Homo sapiens: one gene and its partner. The protein of the gene in region 2 purifies or fractionates together with the protein of the main gene of each other region. This does not show direct contact. Each region holds a gene or a part of one and is shown on either strand. Other genes may lie near its edges. The genes, in order: METAP1D and LRRC56.

Region 1 (9,805 bases), on a different chromosome or scaffold from region 2:
GGCCAACATGGCAAAACCCCGTGTCTACTTAAAAATACAAAAATTAGCCAGGCGTGGTGGTGGGCACCTGTGGTCCCAGCTACTCGGGAGGCTGAGGCAGGAGAATCACTTCAACCCGGGAGGCAGAGGTTGCAGTGAGCCAAGATCGCACCACTGCACTTCACCCTGTGCTACAGGGCGAGACTCTGTCTCAAAAAAAAAAGAAAGAAAATATGCCCTCTTACTTGCTGTATTAGTCTGTTCTCACACTGCTATGAAGAAATTCCTGAGACTGGGTAATTTATAAAGAAAAGGGGTTTAATTGACTCACAGTTCTGCATGGCTCGGGAGGCCTCAGGAAATGTATAATCATGGCAGAAGGCACCTCTTCACAGGGTGGCAGGAGAGAGAATGAGTGCAAGCAGGAGAAAATGCCAGACGCTTATAAAACTATCAGATCTCCTGAGACTCACTCATTATCACAAGAACAGAATGGGGGAAACTATCCCCATGATCCAATTACCTCTACCTGGTCCTGCCCTTGACACATGGGGATTATTACAATTCAAGCTGAGATTTCCTTGTTCCTCTTCATATTCACTGGGATCTTGCTTCGTGGCCCGAGCTAGACCTGGGATTCCAGTGAAGCGAGGGCTGGGAGTGAGACTGAGATAGGAGAGAGTTCCTGGGGCCCCAGGGTAGGGATTCTGTACTCTGAGGAAGGGATTTCCTGCCAGCACTAATACTTGGGAGTATTTTAGTCCCTTAAAGGCCCTTGTTACCTTCTCTCTTGGTTCCAAGAGGCTGATCTGTCTTTTCCTCTTTCCAATGTCACTACTCATAGTTTCTACCCAACCCTCCTTAGACCATGATGGAAGAGAACAAATCTTAACAGCCTCTCAATTCTGTATACTTTTAATGAGCTTAACTTTGAGCCAGGTACTGTGCTTATAAAGACAGAAAGATACATAAGACAAAGCTTCTGTTCAACAAGAATTAATAATCTAGTAAGGAGCAGAAATGGTGAGAGGAGCTAGGTAACTACTGTATATAGGGTATACTGTGACCAAAGCCACAATGAGTTGAGGCGTCACAAGAGAAACCTCATGCCTTTTTTAAAAGGTTAAAAAAAAGTCTTCCTCTATTTCAAGAAGAAATGATGCTCATAAATGCTGATAATAAATCCTGGTACATGAAGACTTGTAATGGATTGCTTTACATAAATCTAGATGGGTGAAAGGGAGGAAGAGGGTGGAGAGAGGAGTCTTCGTGAATTTACCCTTCATTTTCAATTCTTGGGGGTGGGGAGCAGGAAAACCTCTCTGCAATTTAAAACTAGCTATGGGTAGTCCAAAAAGGGGCCCTTTCTCCATCATTAAAATAGCTTCCTGATGACACATTTTTCTTCTCTCCTCTAATCAGAGGATCCACTTCTTGGTTGTTGCAACACTTTGGGATACAGTGGGATGGATTATAGGAACCAATAACTTGGCCTGACTTCCATATAATATATTTTCTCAAGACTGTCTAAACCACCATTTGTCAAAATAATAAGTGATCAAAAAGAAAGAAAAGATTAATGCTATTTCTGTTATCTGCAAAGAGATGTTATATATACAGTTGGTGCAAAGTAATCACAGTTTTTGTCATTGATTCTAAAACTGCAATTACTTTTGTACCAACCTAATACATATATACACACATATAAAAATACGTTTATACATGCATAGGTGTATATATATATACATACATACACCTATGTATGTTTTCAGGTTGTTTTTTTTTTGGCTCCTCCTCTACATTGACTATCTCCTCAGATCCTTCTCACCATTACCTGAAGCATACAAAAATGAAGTCTAAAAGCCATGATTTCTTGTGAAAAGAGGAAACAGAAAAGTAATTAGTAAAGAAAGTTTGGACTGGAACCCAGATCTTTTTTTTTTTTTTTTCAGCTCACTACAACCTCCGCCTCCTGGGTTCAGGCGATCCCTCCCACCTCCACCTCCCAAGTAGCTGGGATTACCAGCATGTGCCACCACACCTGGCTAATTTTTGTATTTTTAGTAGAGACAGGTTTCACCATGTTGGCCAGGCTGGTCTTGAACTCCTGGCCTCAAGTGATCTGCCCGCCTTGGCCTCCCAAAGTGCTGGGTAATATTACAGGCATTAGCCACCTTGCCAGGCCTGGCACCCAGATCTTGAGAGATGTAAATTGGCTGTCTTTTCACAAGGCTACACTCTCATGCTGATGTCCATTCCTTCATGCAACCAGTCCAAAATGCTCGCTACATCACCTTCCCCATACACATCTCTCCCCTCAAATCTTCCTGTGGCCCCTTTCTCATCTCCACTAACACTGAAATACTGAAGTCTATTCGATTACCAACCTTCTTCCTCTCTAAAAATATCTTCCTCTTCACTTCTTATTTTTTATTATTTTTATTTATTTTTTTTTTCTGAGACGGAGTCTCGCTCTGTCGCCCAGGCTAGAGTGTAGTGGTATGATCTCAGCTCACTGCAACCTCCACCTCCTGGGTTAAAGCAATTTTCCTACCTCAGTCTCCCGAGTAGCTGGGATTACAGGCATGCGCCACCACGCCCAGCTAATTGTGTATATTAGTAGAGACGGGGTTTCACCATGTTGGCCAGGCTGGTCTTGAACTTCTGACCTCAAGTGAGCCACCTGCCTCGGCCTCCCAAAGTGCTGGGTTTACAGGTGTGAGCCACCGTGCCCAGGCTCTCTTCACTTTTTGTACACACTCATCCTGCACTGTCTCTGCTGAACTTTACACACTGACTTCTATGGAGTGACCACGTCATGCAGTACCGAGAAATGAGTCTTAAAAAAAAAAATTAGAGTCATGTTCAAATGAGCAATCTGCCTCTTACCATTTATGCGACCTTAGTAATGTTACTTAACCTCTCTAGCCTTACTTTTCCCTTCTGCAAAGAGAAAATAATTCCTAACTCACTGGGTTTTTGTTTTTGTTTTTGAGACAGGGTCTGGCTCTATTGCCAAGTCTGGAGTTCAGTGGTACGATCACGGCTCACTGCAGCCTCTTGACCTCCCAGGCTCAAGCGATCCTACCACCTCAACCCCCAGAATAGCTGAGACTACAGGCATGTGTCACCACGCCCGACTAATTTTTAAAATTTTTTGTAGAGACGGGGTCTCATTCATTGAGTTTTAAAAGGAAGCAAGCATATGTAAGGCGCTTAACACAGTATCGTGTACTTAAAAGGCACTTAATAAACAGTAGCTGTTACTATGAAAATAATATTTACCTCACAAAACTGTTCCTACATGCCTGACGCTTAAGTAGCTCCTCAAAATATGATAGTTTTCCTCTTCCCCCGTCCTTGGAAAAACTTTCTAGTTCTTTCCAACAAAGATTCAGCACCTAGTTCAAATCCAACAAAGATTTCCCCAATTCTGCTGCAAAGGCATTTGTATATTTACTAAAATCTCAACACTCACGCAGGATAAAACCTACTTAGAACTACCCAGACATCCTTTCTTATCTTCTTAACTTTAAGTCACTGGAAGAAAACCATCACATTTTGCAAGTCCCCAAAAAGCATGCCTGCATAAAAGCTCTAGGGAAGGGAACCGGGTGTCCAGATGCATTTCAGAATTACCATAGGTTTCCTTGCTCGGCATACAGAATAAATGTTGGTTACACTAATGATACAACCGAAGTTGGGGAAAAAAACTTCAGACAATGGCCCGCAAATCTCAAGGAGTAATTGCGAAAAGATGCCACGTGGTGACGTGTTCTAGGCGGGTGATCAGTGAACAAATTTGTATGTGTGATCCTGTGGTGTGTGAATGTGTCATCGTGTGTGCCTGCGTGTGTTCGTAAACACTGAAAGTACAGTCGTGTGCGCCGAGAAGTCTGAGCGCGGGTGCGCATCCCTTTGGACCCGGGTGCGTACCTAGTGAGCAACCGTGCGAACCCTCACGGGGCTCTCCTCCACGCGCTTACCTCTGCGGACGAGCAGGTGGACGCCACTGGGCGCCGCCATGTTGGCGTCGGTCACGTGGCCGCGAGCACTCGCTCGCCGCCCCGCCCGCTGGAGCCGGCCAGTCGCAGCCCTGCCGAAGCCCTGAGGCGTCGAGGCCGCCCGAGGGGAGCGCGCGTGCGCGCGCGGGGCTGACTGCGGGAGCCCTGGCTGGGAAGCGGCTAGGGCACCCGGGCAAGCAGCAGAACCCGCGGCCGGCTGAGTCCTCTCCAGCCGCGAGAGGCGGGCTCCAGCCGCGGCTCGCGCGCTCGCTCTGAGCCCCCGCGCCCAGGTGGGATGGAAGAAGCCTGTCAGGTAAGCGTGGCATCCAATATTTATAGCATCAACATTTTGGTGCATGGAAACGTGAAGTTGGGCGGAAAAAATAAAGCACAATCTAGTGTTCAACATAGCACTTTGTATCGTCTGCCACTCTGTTGCAAATTATTCCCCTGGATTCAGTTGAAAGGTAAAATTTGGTTCAAAGTCACCAGCTCCCCTTTTGCTGTCCCAGAATCTACATTACTCAGCAGAGACTCCAGACAACACAGGATCTGTGTGTCGCTGCAAAATCTATTCTAGGTACCCCAGTGGGTATGTTCAGGAGACTTCTCTTTCTCCAAGGACGCCTTCTGCTTGGCAGTATTAACTGGAGTCTTAATCCTAAATTTGGAGTTTAAGTATAAAAGGATGACGCCTGCCAATTGCATTGCCAAGAGAAGAAGCCTACAGAAGGCCAATTGTGAATCAGATGAGGGAGCTGATGTATGCCTACTGATGACGGTGCCCATTTTTACCAAATTCACTGTCTCTCTTACCTGTGTTCTGGGGTAGATGCCATCCTGTCATGGACCAGGTGTTATTCATCTTAGTAGCCTCCGTGCCCGGCACAGAACCCGATACCCGAGGAATGTCAGGTGAAGCAATTGAACACTGCATGAAACCAGTCAAACTGAGAATGTAACCGTTTCCAGACTTTAAATGCAGTGAAGATTGATTAGGATTCTCAGTGAATGTGTGTGATGTCTTCTAATTAATTTTTAAGCACTACACACTCAGTGAATAATCTAGACAATTCAGAACAATTCAGAAATAAGGAACAAGTGCAAGCCCCTTCCTCGCCCTCTGTACATACCATAGTCCCACTCCCCAGTTAACCACCGTGTGCTCAATTGAGATCTTTGCCTTTTACACACAGGCAAATGTAAGTATTTTAAATAGAATCATATGACTTGCTTTTTCCATTCCAGTCATCATAGGCATCAAATCTTAGAACACTTAGTTCAGACTTATTCTTTTTAATGACTATATAATCTTGATATTTTTACTTTTAAAGAGAGTGAATGTTGGCATTTCATTAGAGGACACATGCTATAATTCTGGAAAACCTGGTTTTGGATGCTTTTGGGTCACCTTGAAAGATAAAGAGAAGTAATGCTTTCCATCAGGGTAAATAAGATGCACAAGAATGAGAATAAAATGTACTCCTACCTTTTGCAAACTCATTTCAATTCCAGGGAGAGCATTTTTGAATGTGGCAAATCTGTCCTCTGTGTAACTGAGGCCAGCAATCTGAGTGCAGCAAAGGAGCCTGAGAGTTAGCTGGCCACAGAGTCTTAAGCAGTGTACAGAAAAAAGAAATCTAGACATCCCTATTCCTTAAGGCATCAAGCCTAGTTTCAAACCCATCTGAAATAGAACACATGTTCATGTGACTTAACTCAGCCAACCCTTGGAAAATAAATGAATGCTTTATTCCCCTACAACTAAAAGGAAAAGGAAACACTATGAGGACCCAGGTGGCACCAGCAGTAGTGGAATCCAGTGAGGAAATCCTCAATAAGTTCGGCATGGAATGTAGATATCTGGGATGAGCTAGAAATGAAGCAAATATGAACTTGCACAGGTGATAGCTCATCCACTGACCCTGGATCTGGCTTCTCTCATACACATCCTTCTCACCGCAGAAGGGTTAAAAGCTGCCAGCACATGTCCGCCAAAACCATCAACTTATGGGATATAAGCTGGGTGTGGTGGCTCATGCCTGTAATCCCAGCACTTTGGGAGGCGAACGCAGGCAGATCACTTGAGGTCAGGAATTCGAGACCAGCTTGGGCAACATGGTGAAACCTGTCTCTACTAAAAATACAAAAATTAGCCAGGCATGGTGGTGCATGCCTGCAATCCCAGCTACTCAGAGGCTAAGGCGGGAGAATCACTTGAACCTGGGAGGCAGAGTTTACAGTGAGCCGAGATCCTGCCACTGCACTCCAGCCTGTGCCACAGAGGAAGATTCTCTCAAAAAAAAAAAAAAAAGGGATATATACATAGTGACCAACAAGATAAAGGGCTAGATCACTGATATCTAGGATCCCTTGCAATTTTAACATTCTGTGATCTTGAGCATTAGAGTGCTTTTATTTAGATGAGTAACCGCTACTGAGTCACTTCTCTACTCCATTTCTGTCCGTGCTCCTATCTGTGAAATGAAGGTTAATTATATTATGGCACTTCACTGATTTGAATTCTTACCATTAGTCAGATTTTGTACTTAGGATTCTTGAATAAAAAATTGAATAATTCGGCCGGGTGCAGTGGCTCACACCTGTAATTCCAACACTTTGGGAAGCCAAGGCAGGAGGATTGCTTGAGCCCAGGAGTTGGAGACCCAGCTGGGCAACATAGTGAGACCCCGTGTCTACAAAAAATTTACAAACTAGCTAGATGTGGTGGCACATGCATATAGTCCCAGCTACTTGGGAGGCTGAGGCAGGAGGAGCGCTTGAGCCCCGGAGTTTGAGGCTGCAGTGAGCTGTGATTGTGCCACTGCACTGTAGCCTGGGCAACAGAGCAAGACTCTGTCTCAAAAAAAAAAAGTTGAATAACTTTTGAAAACCAGGGTTCAAGAAATAAAGGATAACTTAATACCTTCAGTTTATGTCCAAAAATTCATTCTTGAATGTTAAAATATTTTGATTGTGATTATTATTTTATAGGTCTTTACCTTGATTTTCAAAAGATCATGTCTTATTCACATCTTTTAAAATCTTTTTATTTATAAAAGATATAAATCAAATAAATTCCAATATGCATATTTTTGAAAAACCCATTTTTCCTTCCTCCTTCTTGAACTTAATATTATAGACTTATACCATGAGTGTGTCTAAATTTGTAGTTTGTAATAAAAGTTAAATTATGCAGGTTCTGTAATGTATGTATTGAATTTTTAATTGAATATTTGCATTTTTAAATGCTCTAAGGGATTATGTGACATGAAGTAAATAATTTTTTAAAAATGTTTGTCTTATAGTAAATAACATCATCTTGTAATTTGTCTCACAAGTTTAGATTTATATATATATATATTAGGATTACTATAAGATATTTGAAAACACAGGCTGGGTGTGGTGGCTTATGCCTGTAATCCCAGCATTTTGAGAGGCCGAGGCGGGCAGATCACCTGAGGTCAGGAGTTCAAGATCAGCCTGGCCAACATGGCGAAACCCCATCTCTACTAAAAGATGCAAAAATTAGCCGGGTATGGGGCGGGCACTTGTAATCCTAGCTATTCGGGAGACTGAGGCAAGGAGAATAGCTTAAACCCTGGAGGCGGAGGTTGCAGTGGGCCAGGATGGTGTCACTGCAGTCCATCCTGAGCGACAGAGGGAGACTCTGTCAAAAGAAAGAAAGAAAGAGAGAGAGAGGGAGGGAGGGAGGAAGGAAGGAAGGAAGCAAGGAAGGAAGGAAGGAAAGAAGGAAAGAAGGAAAGAAGGAAGGAAGGGAAGGAAAGAAGGAAGGAAAGAAAGAAGGAAGGAAGGAAAGAAAAGAAAGAGCACAAACCATGAAATAGGGGCCAAGGTGCTTACATATCTCTAATAAAAAGCTGTTTTATGTGAATACGTTGTAAGATTAACTGATATAATGTGGCTGCTGGGGGAAACTGGTACCCCGGGACCACACAGCTTCAGCGCAGTTGTCATCTAGACCCAGGGGCCTCATTCTCCCTTCCTGACCCTGCCTCTTTGTTTTGCCATCTGAATCCGTAAAGTTAGCCTTTTGATTTGATTTCACGATCATTTCTTAGCAACTCTGTGGTTGGAGAAGAATCTCCGATCTTGGCCTCTAGTTTCTCTAATTTTAATATGTTGGTATGCTACTTGTTTACATATTTTAAGTCAAATGAACATTCTTTTCAGGAACTAGGAGTTCTGCATAAACATAAGCCGCATGTACAACAAAGATCTGTCTTAGTAGCTGATTGGGCCCCTCTAAAGTTAGCGTCTATGTTTGAATGATTATAGGTTCAGGCAGACAGTTTCTAGGGCACTCTCAACTAACTTGCTGGCAGAATGTCATGTTTCCTATACCAATCATTTGAGACAATCATGAATATGTTACTGAGTAATCTAAAGGTACTGTTAGAGAAAATGTGTAAATATTCCATGTTTTGCGAGGAAAAGTAATGCCATATGTGAGACAGTTGTGGAAAATCAAGTGGATTTATCTTTGCTGTTTGTGCCCTGTTCCTTGATCTTTAGCAGTGCCAAGAGGGAGCCAGGACAAGAGAAGGAGGATGTTAGTTGCATGTGATCCTCCTGCCACTCTCATTTTTTATTAGTCTAATGACATTTTCCCAGTCATATAATTCCTATGCAAATGATACTTTAAGCCCCACCCCTTCCTAATGGGATTGCCCTACCTGAGCCTCTTCCATACTGAAATTCTGAGGATTTCAGGGATCTAGAGCCATTTATAGGCATAATCCAAATGGGCTCAGCAAATAGCATGCTGCAACCTCCTGAGCAGTCTGTCAAGGGAAGGGGAGTAGAATGGGACCAGACAGGGCTAACTTAACTGTAGGGTAAGACCAAAACATTGCCCCAAGGAAGTTGTTGATATCAGGCCCAGTCTGGCTAGCATTCGTTTCAAGTTTGTCCAACGCTTTGGCTTAAAAGATGTTATAGGAGATGTAAAAACAGCAGTAACACTCCAACATAGTAACATATCCATTGTTGGAGCAGTAGCCCATCTAGAATCGTGGCAGGAGCTGAGGGAGCGAGGGAAGGGAAGGGACGGCTATAGGGAAGAGCATGGAGATGGTCCCAGACCCTTTTCACTGGTGCATTAAAGCTTTCTGATAATACTGCCTGCTTCGGTCAGAGTTGGCTTGGGAACTGTGCAGGCTTGAGGGACAAGGCTTCCCTGACCTGATGTCTTGGGACTGACTCTGAGTGTTGGGTTAAAGCAGAAGTGTGCAATTGCCTCATGGAATCTAAATGAAAGTGTGAACCATAAGAGGCTGCCATCCATTCCCAAACTGCCAATGCCTGGAAAGGTAGTTCCTGCTTATACACTTCCAGAGAATGAAGATTCCATTCAGAATAGGGGGAAAAGGCAACAAATTCCCAAGCGAATCTAGCAATCAACCAATCAATAAATATGTAAGTGCTACTCTAAGCTCCAAGGAGATATGATACTGTCTTTATTCTCAAGAAACAAATTGGAAACGAACTGTGCAGGCTTGAGGGACAAGGCTTCCCTGGCCTTGAATTAGTCTCAGCTTTCCAATTTGTTCTTAAGAAACAAATTGGAAGAGACTAACATGCTCACAAGATTGTCCATAAAACAAGACCAAATTGTACCCTCTTGACTATAAGCCCCATGGAGCAATGCCAGGGGTCACAGATTGTAGCCATCCCTGGCTGCCAGGAACTGAGGAAAATGGTGAACTCTAATTATCTAAGTTCCCAGGAAATTATACCTATTTAATCTCCTTCCTTCAAATATGTGCTCTTTGAAAAACATTCCAAAAAAAAAAAAAAGA
Region 2 (9,986 bases):
GGGGGCCTTCTGGCCCCCGCACGGCTCATTGCAGCCCAGGACTTTGGCTGCACCATGAGGCCACGAGCTTGGGGTTTGGGCAAGAACGGCAACCACCAGCCAGAACCTGCACGTAGAACCCAGACCAGACGGCAGCCCCTGGGAGAGGCACAGCCAGAGCCTGTGTAAAGAACCCAGACCAGACGGCAGCCCCCGGGAGAGGCACAGCAGAGCCTGTGTACAGAACCCGGACCAGACGGCAGCTCCCGGGAGAGGCACAGCAGAGCCTGTGTACAGAACCCGGACCAGCTCCCAGGAGAAGCACAGGAAGCTCCGTGCCCCACAGCAACTCACAACATTCGGAGCTGAAGACGTTGGCGGCTCTCACGTCATCGGAAGGGAAAGAACAAGGCTGAAGGAACATCCGACTTTATTCTGGGGGTTTGGGCAAAGTGGGTTTTGTGAAAACGCTGCTGGTTTTATGTAGCCTGTTCCCAGCAGCATAAGGCAGGGGAATTCCAGGCAGAATTCTAGAACATTCTCCAGCTGTGTGAATTGGGCTCCAAGGGCCACATCTAGTTATTTCCAGATGAGGATAAGGGTATTCATTAAGCAACCTCTCTTTGAATGTTTTCTTGATTTTCCTTATTTGTACTTCTGTTTATCAAACAAATATCAAAATGGGCCGGGCACGGTGTCTCACGCCTATAATCCCAGAACTTTGGGAGGCCGAGGTGGGCAGATCACCTGAGGTCAGGAGTTCGAGACCAGCCTGACCAACATGGAGAAATCCCATCTCTACTAAAAATACAAAATTAGCCGTGCATGGTGGCACATGCCTGTAACCCCAGCTGCTCAGGAGGCTGAGGCAGGAGAGTCGCTGCAGTGAGCCGGGAGGCAGATGCTGCAGTGAGCTGAGATCACACCACTACACTCCAGCCGGGGCAACAGAGCGAAACTCTGCCTCAAAAAAATAAAGTAGGCCAGGCACAGTGGTTCACGCCTGTAATCCCAGTACTTTGGGAGGCCAAGGTAGGCAGATCACGAGGTCAGGAGATTGAGACCATACTGACTAACATGGTGAAACCCCGTCTCTACTAAAAATACAAAAAATTAGCCGGGCGTGGTGGTGGGCGCCTGTAGTCCCAGCTACTCGGGAGGCTGAGGCAGGAAAATGGCGTGAACCCAGGAGGCGGAGCTTGCAGTGAGCCAAGATCGCACCACTAAACTCCAGCCTGGGCGACTGAGTGAGACTTCGTCTCAAAAAAAAAAAAATACATGAAGATCTGGAAATGGAAGAAAGTTGGAAAACACTTTGGGGTCAAAGACACAGTGGGCAGCCCACAGAACTGGAACAGAGAGGGGCCTGGACATGAAGTCAGGCCTGCAGCAGGCACCCAGACGACACCGCGAACGAGAAACTAGGATGGGTTTGGAAAATGGACTTCTTAGAAACATGTCTCCCAGCCAGGCGGGTTGGCTCACACCTGTAATCCCAACACTTTGGGAGGCCAAGGCAGGCGGATCACGAGGTCAGGAGTTCAAGATCCGCCTGGCTAACGTGGTGAAAACCCATCTCTACTAAAAATACAAAAAAAAAAAGAAATAGCCAGGCATGGTGTGCGCTTGTAATCCCAGCTACACAGGAGGCAGAGGCAGGAGAATTGCTTGAACCCAGGAGGCGGAGGTTGCAGTAAGCCAAGATTGCTCCATTGCACTCCAGCCTAGGCAACAAGAGCAAAACTCCATCTCAAAAAAAAAAAAATTAGCTGGGCTTGGGCTTGGGCTTGGCGGTGCATGCCTGTAATGCCAGCTGCACAGGAGGCTGAGGCATGAGAATCACTTGGACCTGGGAGGTGGAGGTTGCAGTGAGCTGAGATCGCGCCACTGCACTCCAGCCTGGGTGACAGAGCAAGACTCCGTCTCAAAAAACCGTAAAAAACAAAAACAAAGAACAAAAAAAGTGCCCCTAATACAAGAGTAAATGATATTCTAATGGAGATGGCTGTACTTTTTTTTTTAGCTTAACAAATAAGCCTCTATTATTTTGTGTTTTTTTTTGTTTTGAGACAGAGTCTCACTCCGTTGCCCAGGCTGGAGTGCAGTGGCGCAATCTCGGCTCACTGCAATCTCGCCTCCCGGGTTCACGCCATTCCCCTGCCTCAGCCTCCCGAGTAGCTGGGACTACAGGCGCCTGCCACCACGCCCGGCTAATTTTTTGTATTTTTAGTAGAGACGAGGTTTCACCACGTTGGCCAGGATGGTCTCGATCTCCTGACCTCATGATCTGCCCGCCTCGGCCTCCCAAAATGCTGGGATTACAGGCGTGAGCCACCACGCCCGGCCAGAAGCCTCTATTGTTAAGACCAACAAATTAGCTCTAAGAACAACAAAAAAATATAAAAAGCACATAAATACACAAAATATAAAAGAGCAGTGGAAGGTACTATAAAATTAAATATGATGCACTACCTGTAACAAAACAAAATAGTTCCAAAGGAAAAATGACTAGGTCATAAATTGTATAAAAAATATATTCAGGCCAGGTGCGGTGGCTCACACCTGTAATCCCAGCACTTTGGGAGGCCAAGGCGAGTGGAACATGAGGTCAGCAGTTCAAGACCAGCCTGGCCAAGATGGTGAAACCCCGTATCTACTAAAAATACAAAAATTAGCCGGGTGTGGTGGCGGGCACCTGTAATCACAGCTACTCGGGAGGCTGAGGCAGGAGAATTGCTTGAACCTGGGAGGCAGAGGTTGCAGTGAGCCAAGATCGTGCCACTGCACTCCAGCCTGAGTGACAGAGACTCCATCTCAAAAAAAAAATTAAAAATTAAAAAATTTCAAAGGAACTTGTCATAAATAAAAGACTGAAAGGAAAAACAAACTGAATTATTGGCACTGAAACATATCCTAATAAAGTTACTGGCATGAAGATAAAGGTAAAAAGTTGGAGCAGCCAAGAAAAGAGATTGACTTGTCTTTTTTTCTTTGAGACAGGGTCTCACTCTGTCGCCCAGGCTGGAGTGCAGTGGTGCGACCATGGCTTACAATAGCCTCGACCTCCTGGGCTCAGGTGCTCCTCCCACCTCAGCCTCCTGAAGTGCCAGGATTACAGGCATGAAGCACTGTGCTCAGCCTCAAGTTTTGTTTGTTTGTTTGTTTGTTTGGAGACGGAGGCTCGCTCTGTCGTCCAGGCTGGAGTGCAGTGGCGCAATCTCAGCTCACTGCAACCTCCACCTCCCCGGTTCAAGCGATTCTCCTGCCTCAGCCTCCCAAAGTGCTGGGACTACAGGCACCCGCCACCACGCCTGGCTAATTTTTTTGTATTTTTAGTAGAGATGGGGTTTCACCGTGTTAACCAGGACGGTCTAGATCTCCTGACCTCGTGATCTGCCTGCCTCGGCCTCCCAAAGTGCTGGGATGACAGGCGTGAACCACCGCGCCCGGCCTCAAGTGGTTTTTTAAGGACAGAAATAACGAAGTGCTCCTTAGACGTCGCCACAGTGGACACTGGAACGAAAGGCTTTGCAGCCTCCTGGGAAGAGGCGTGAACTGAGAGTCTGACACCCAGCCTAATGGCTGCATAAGCTCACAGCCAGCAAACATCTGTGAGTCAGAGATCAAGGGGTTTCCATTAGCTGCTCTTGAAGAAATCACTAGACACAAATCCCAGCCAATTCAGAGCGGAGTGGAAAAGCCATTGAAGGCAGCAGGCTGAGGACAGACACTGACTCCACAGCGCGAAAGGACGGACCACCGGGAATGCACCTGAGGGCCCACAGAAGGAAGCTGAAAACACAGTGGGCGGAATGAAGCCCAGGTGAGTCACAGCCTACGGGTGCCGTGAACTGGACAGAAAGAAGATTTCCGAAGAAATCACCCAGCCCTGGAGGAATCTGTGGCTCCTCAGGGAAAGCCTGTGAGCTCAGGTGGCCCTTTCACAAGGAGAGGTGCAGAGATGGCGTAGCAGCGCTGAAGGGACGGCCTCCCAGCCGAGAGGGGCAGGTGCAGGGTCCCTGGGGACAGCGCATGGTGAAGTCACTGTGGCTACAGTGGGAACAGGGTGGGCCCGGCAGGAAGCAACCTGTCCCTGCACACATCAAGCCGCCCTGACCCACCGCCACCTCCAGCAGCTGGTCCCCACAAAAGCTGCCAGCTCAGCACGGGGTCAGCCTCCAGCGAAGCCCCCCACATCGGTGTCCAGGGGCTCAGGCTCCCAGGCAGCACTCCAGACCCTTACTCCAAATTCGAGTGCCCCAAACGCTACTGAGGAGACAATTAGAAAGAGAAAGGTGATGCCTGCAGCCTGCCAGGGAGGGGACTGAGCCACCCACTATGAGGGCAGCGCCTTGGGCACAGCTGAGCCACCGGTCACGAGGGCAGCTCCCCAAGCCAGGCCCTCCAGGGCTTGGAGAAGGTGGGGGACACTGTACCCACACCAGAGCCAGAAGGCCAAGGCAGAGAGCCCCTTCCTCAGTCTAGAGGCCACCATAGGTGGTCACACCTGCCCCTACCCCTGAAGACAGCCAAAGGCAGGTGGTGGCTGAGCACAGGGCTGGGCACATGTTGACCACCAAACCCTGCCTTCTGCAGGGACTTGGGCACGTCTCTGGGCCACCTGCAGGTGCTGTGGCTGGCTCGCTGTGGCCTCGCTGACCTGGATGGCATCGCCTCTTTGCCAGCACTTAAGGTGAGTCTGGGCACCCTGGGCTGGGGAGGCCTGGGCTGGGCCGGGCCCTGGCTCAGAGCCCCGCGCTGCCCAGGAACTCTACGCCTCCTACAACAACATCTCGGACCTGAGCCCACTGTGCCTGCTGGAACAATTGGAGGTGCTGGACCTGGAGGGCAACAGCGTGGAGGACCTGGGGCAGGTGCGCTACTTGCAGCTGTGCCCACGCCTGGCCATGCTCACCCTGGAGGGCAACCTGGTGTGCCTACAGCCGGCCCCTGGCCCCACCAACAAGGTGCGTGTCCCGGGCACCCGGCCAGCATGTGCATGGCCAGGAGAGGCTCCCTGTGGCTCCAGCCCCGGGGCCCCTCCTCTGGCCAGGTACTTCTGTGCCCACCCGCACCCTATGGCCTGCTCACCATGAGTTCACCTCCTCTGTCACTGGAAGTCTGACGGCTCCCAGGACACCCTCCTGGACCAGCCCCGCTAGATCCCACAGGGTCACCTGCACACACGCCATGTCCCTTAACCCACATATGCACCTGTGAGGTCCACACATAAGCCACGTGGAAACACAAAGAACCACGTGTACACGGATGTGTGCACACACACACCTGTGTACGCCCTGTCCAGAGCCACCTCCAGCCCCACAGGCCCCACAGACCACCCTATGCAGTATCTCGGGGCTCTGCGTGCCCTGCTCAGAGCTGGCACACCTGTGCGTGCAGGCCCTGGCGTAGCTCACAGACCCTACACAGGGCACATCTGCCCTGAGCTCACAGTGCTAGCCTCATTAGCTGCTGCTTGGTGCTGCCACATGCTGAGGTCAGCGTCTACCAGTGCCCAGTAGCTACTGCTCCGTGGGCCAGAGCCCTGAGCTGAGGGCAGTTCCATGGGCCAGAGGGCATCCCTGGACCCGGCCTTGGGTCTGGAGAGTGGGGTCCTACATCCTGAGCAGGTGAGAGCCCAGTCCCTCAGTCCCTGGGGTGTGAGAGTGACCCAAGCCCACCCCTGCAGGGTAGGCAGCATCCCCACCTCTGGGCCCCTGCCCTGCCCCACGGTGGGTCTGGGAAAGGGAGCCAGGGAAAGAGCTGGCCGGAAGGAAACACTGGACCCAGACCTGCCCTCCCTCCCCCTCCCCCTCCCCCTGCAGGTGCCCAGGGGCTACAACTACAGGGCAGAGGTGAGGAAGCTCATTCCCCAGCTGCAGGTCCTGGACGAAGTGCCGGCCGCACACACAGGCCCACCGGCCCCCCCGCGGCTGAGCCAGGACTGGCTTGCGGTGAAGGAGGCCATCAAGAAGGGCAACGGCCTTCCCCCGCTGGGTACGGCAGCTGCGCCCGGAGGACCCACTGCTGAGCCCCAGCTCCCCCCAGGAAGAGGCCCCCACCCCAGGCTTCTCAGAAACGGATAGCCACATCTCATGCGCTTCTCCAGCCTTGACCCCGGTCCCCAGAGCTGTGCACACCCGGCCCCAGGCCAGGACACTGTCTCTGAGCAGCCCACAGAGGGAGAGGAAGGTCTGAAGATGAGGGCCTCTCTAGAAGGCTGCAGCGTGAGAGGCCAGCCTCAGGCCATGCAGCATGGGGATTGGGGCCCCTGGTCTGTGGACAGAGTCTGGGGGGCGCTCTCAGGCTGGGCCTTGGTGACCTCTGCTTCTGAACCTCGGGCAGACTGTCCCCGTGGAGCCCCCATCCGGAGACTTGACCCCGAGCTGTCCCTGCCTGAGACGCAGTCCCGGGCCTCCAGGCCCTGGCCCTTCTCCCTGCTGGTCCGTGGGGGCCCCCTGCCTGAAGGCCTGCTTTCTGAGGACCTGGCCCCAGAAGATAACACCAGCAGCCTCACCCATGGTAACTGACTTGCCTCAAAGCTGACCCTGCAGCCCCTCGGCCCCGAACCAGGCCCAGCCATGCTGTCTCTTGCAGGTGCTGGCCAAGTCCTCTGTGGGAACCCCACCAAGGGCCTGCGGGAGCGTAGGCACCAGTGCCAGGTACAGCCCACAGGGACCAGCCCCCCACGAGAACCAGTGTCCAGGGTTGCGGCCCTGACAGTGCCCTGCCCTGCCGCCATTCCAGGGCCAGAATCCCTAAAGCAGTCCCTTTTCCTCCCCAGGCCAGGGAGCCCCCCGAGCAGCTGCCCCAACACAGGCCAGGAGATCCGGCCGCCAGCACTTCCACCCCAGAGCCTGACCCTGCAGACAGCTCTGACTTCCTGGCCTTGGCTGGGCTCAGGGCCTGGAGGGAACATGGCGTGCGGTGGGTGTCCCTCCAGCTCTTCCACTGGGTGTGTCCTGTCCCGTGGGGAAATCAGGGCTGGGGCTACCTTGGCTGAGTCATCCCCAGTCCCAAGGCTCGTGGACCATCCCTGCATGTCCTGTCCCGTGGGGGGATCAGGGCTGGGGCTACCTTGGCTGAGTCATCGCTGGTCCCAAGGCTCGTGGACCATCCCTGTGTGTCCTGTCCCGTGGGGGGATCAGGGCTGGGGCTACCTTGGCTGAGTCATCCCCAGTCCCAAGGCTCATGGACCATCCCTATGTGTCCTGTCCCGTGGGGGGATCAGGGCTGGAGCTTCTCCTCCTCTCCCCACCCTAGCCCCCTCCCCTATAGGCACCCGGAGTCCCAACAGGAAGGGGCTGTAGCCCCCTGGGGCCCACGGAGGGTCCCTGAAGAGCAAGTGCACCAGGCAGAGCCCAAGACTCCCTCCAGCCCCCCAAGCCTGGCCTCAGGTACTGAGCCTGCCCGCCTGCCCCCCAGTGCCTGGGAGTGACCAACACCCCACTTCTATAGGGGGGCCCTTACCCCAGATCAGATGTGTCAACCTGGCCCTGCTTCCTCAGCCATGCTCTGAGAGGGACTGTAACAGGGAGGCCCCCTTCTGGGGGTGGGGGGCTCACGACCAAGGGAGGCCCAACCCAAGTCCTCTCCCAAGCCACGGTCCAATCCCTGTGACCTTGTGTGCCACCCGGGCTGGACGAAAGAGAGGCGTTCCACAAAAGGGGGTATGAACAGAGTCCAGAGGAGTCGGGACAGAAAGAAGGAGCCACCCCAGGGCACCAGCAGGCAGAACATGGCCACTGGGCAGCTTTCAGGGACACAGGCATGAGTCCGGGGGCTGGGAGGAAAGGCGGCCAGCAGCCCCACTGGGAGACCAAGGCAGGAGGGTGCTGCCGCTTCACCCTGAAGATGGCACGCGCACTTGGGGACATAGAATTAAGCCATGCAGTGCCCTTTACGAAGGACACTGACTTCAGTGTGATCACAGCTGCAAAGCAGAGAGGACCCTCCCTCAGCGGGCAGGCAGGCCGGGCAGGGGGCAGTGTAAGCAGGGGCGACCCCACGGTGGGCAGCTGACCCTCCTCTGTGCAGGAGCCTGGTTAAGGGGGCTGGGATGGGCAGGGAACAGGGCAGGCCAAGCCTCTGCTCTTCCATATGGTGGTGGGTGTCTGTGGAGGGGGCAGACAGAGGGGTCAACAGCTGGTTACCTAGTGGCCGTGACCTGCAGGGGTGGAGGGAGGGCAGGCAGGGCGGCCAGGAGGAGGGGAGCTGCAGTGGCCTCAGGGCAGGGTCAGGACAAAGGCATGCCAGGGCTCCAGACACCGGTGGAGGCGGGTGCTGGGGGACCCAAGGCTTGGGAACCGGCCCGGGGCGGTCAGCCAGTGAACAGGCTCTCAGGGTCAGGACACAGATGACCGAGGGTCAGAGCCAGGCCTTGTGGTCTCCTTCTCAGGGACAGGACACAGAGGACCCAGGGCCAGAACCAGGCTTCGTGGCCTCCTTGCCTGCCCCAGAGGTGGGCCCGCCCATGCGAGTCAGGGGTCACAGGGCTGGGAACACAGAAAGTGGGGTGCAGGGGTGCTGCTGCCTGTGGACCCCCAAGGACCACTGCCTCGGGGCTGCAGGGCCACGGGTGGGCTGTGGCCTCCCCACCGGGTGACTCCCTTCCCTGACAGCCTTTCTGACGTCCCATCACTCTGCTTGCTTTCTAGAGCCCTCCGGGACCTCGAGCCAGCACCTGGTCCCTTCACCTCCCAAGCACCCAAGGCCACGAGATTCTGGCAGCAGCTCCCCGCGGTGGTCGACAGACCTGCAGTCCAGGGGGCGTCGGCTCCGAGTCCTGGGCAGCTGGGGGCCTGGCCTGGGTGATGGGGTGGCTGCAGTGCCTGTCCTGAGAGCCCTGGAGGTGGCCTCACGCCTGAGCCCTCGAGCCCAGGGATGTCCTGGCCCAAAGCCAGCACCAGATGCAGCAGCTAGACCTCCCAGGGCAGCTGAACTCTCTCACCCCAGCCCCGTCCCCACTTAATATAGCCCCCACTGCCAGGCTTCCCTGTGCTGGGGCCACGACTTGCCCACATATGTGGTCACAGAGCACAGAATACCTGGGCGGGTGTGTTGGGGGGTGGAAGGAGTGCCTGGCCCTGGGGAGGACCCTCTTGGTGGAGGGGAGTGGGGGACTGGGACCAGCCAGGGAGGCAGCAGAGGCTGGAACCCAGTTTAGGCCCCCAACTGGGTTTGGCCTGGGGAGGGAGGGTCCGGCTCCCCAGCCCTTCCTTAGGGCCAGGCTTTCCCGCGGGCACGGGGGTGGGGGGTGGTCACCCGAGCAGGCCTGTGAGAGGCCTCTCCTGCTAGAATTGGGCATGGCCGAGGGGCAGGGGCTGGAGCTGCGAGTCCACCACTCCCTTGCCGGCCCCAGGGTAAGAGCCACCTCCTAGGCCGCAGTGGCCCAAGGTCCCAGCTGCTCGCCTGAGGCCGCCGGGGGTGCGGTCCAGGCCTCCCGTCTCCGGGGGATCTGTAGGGTTCCCGCACTGCGATAGGGCGGCCCGTTCCCTCCTCTTGGCGCAGGACGCCCCGGAACCCAAACCAACATTTCCAGCTCTCAGGTGTACAGAAATGCGGTTTACTTTGTAGGCCACGTTGGTTCAATAAATGATGCAGCGGACACAGCCCGCCCAGCCCCGGCGCCCGCCCGCGCCCTCCCTCGCGGTCCCGGCCCCACTCCTCCGCCCCTAGGCGCCGCGGCAGGTGTCCGCGGTGACCGGCAGGCAGCTGAGGAAGCGGAAGCCGAATCTGCTCTCCGCCGTGTTCTGCACCGACAGGGCCACCAGGGGGCAGCTACGGTCCACGCTCTTCCGGCACACCTGGGGGGCGCGGGGGCTGAGAGGCGCGCGGGGCGGGGCGGGGACGGGAGGGGAGGGGAGGGGAGGAGAGGGGAGGGGCGGGGAGGAGAGCGGAGGGGAGGGGACGAGGAGACAGAGGGGAGGGAGGGGCGGGAGAGGAGAGGAGGAGAACGAGGAGGGAGAGGAGGGGGCGCACCCGCAAGCGCGCACTCACCCGAACTC

The links.
Region 1: the proteins of LRRC56 (region 2) and METAP1D purify together in Homo sapiens (affinity purification with mass spectrometry; 2 studies listed by BioGRID and IntAct, with this or other methods). This does not show direct contact.

The regions. Positions count from the first base shown.
Region 1 is NC_000002.12:171,994,170-172,003,974, reverse strand, and holds the start of METAP1D (methionine aminopeptidase 1D, mitochondrial isoform 1 precursor), read right to left. Parts: upstream 4,023-9,805; 5' UTR 4,006-4,022; coding exon 3,966-4,005; exon of another isoform or gene 3,916-3,965; intron 1-3,915. UniProt on the Homo sapiens protein: Removes the N-terminal methionine from nascent proteins. The N-terminal methionine is often cleaved when the second residue in the primary sequence is small and uncharged (Met-Ala-, Cys, Gly, Pro, Ser, Thr, or Val).
Region 2 is NC_000011.10:545,327-555,312, forward strand, and holds the end of LRRC56 (leucine-rich repeat-containing protein 56), read left to right. Parts: intron 1-4,575; coding exon 4,576-4,672; intron 4,673-4,745; coding exon 4,746-4,946; intron 4,947-5,804; coding exon 5,805-5,976; intron 5,977-6,324; coding exon 6,325-6,501; intron 6,502-6,576; coding exon 6,577-6,641; intron 6,642-6,763; coding exon 6,764-6,906; intron 6,907-7,242; coding exon 7,243-7,376; intron 7,377-8,636; coding exon 8,637-8,950; 3' UTR 8,951-9,586; downstream 9,587-9,986. Other genes in the region: LMNTD2 (lamin tail domain-containing protein 2), read right to left, coding at 9,654-9,785, 9,979-9,986. UniProt on the Homo sapiens protein: Required for the assembly of dynein arms.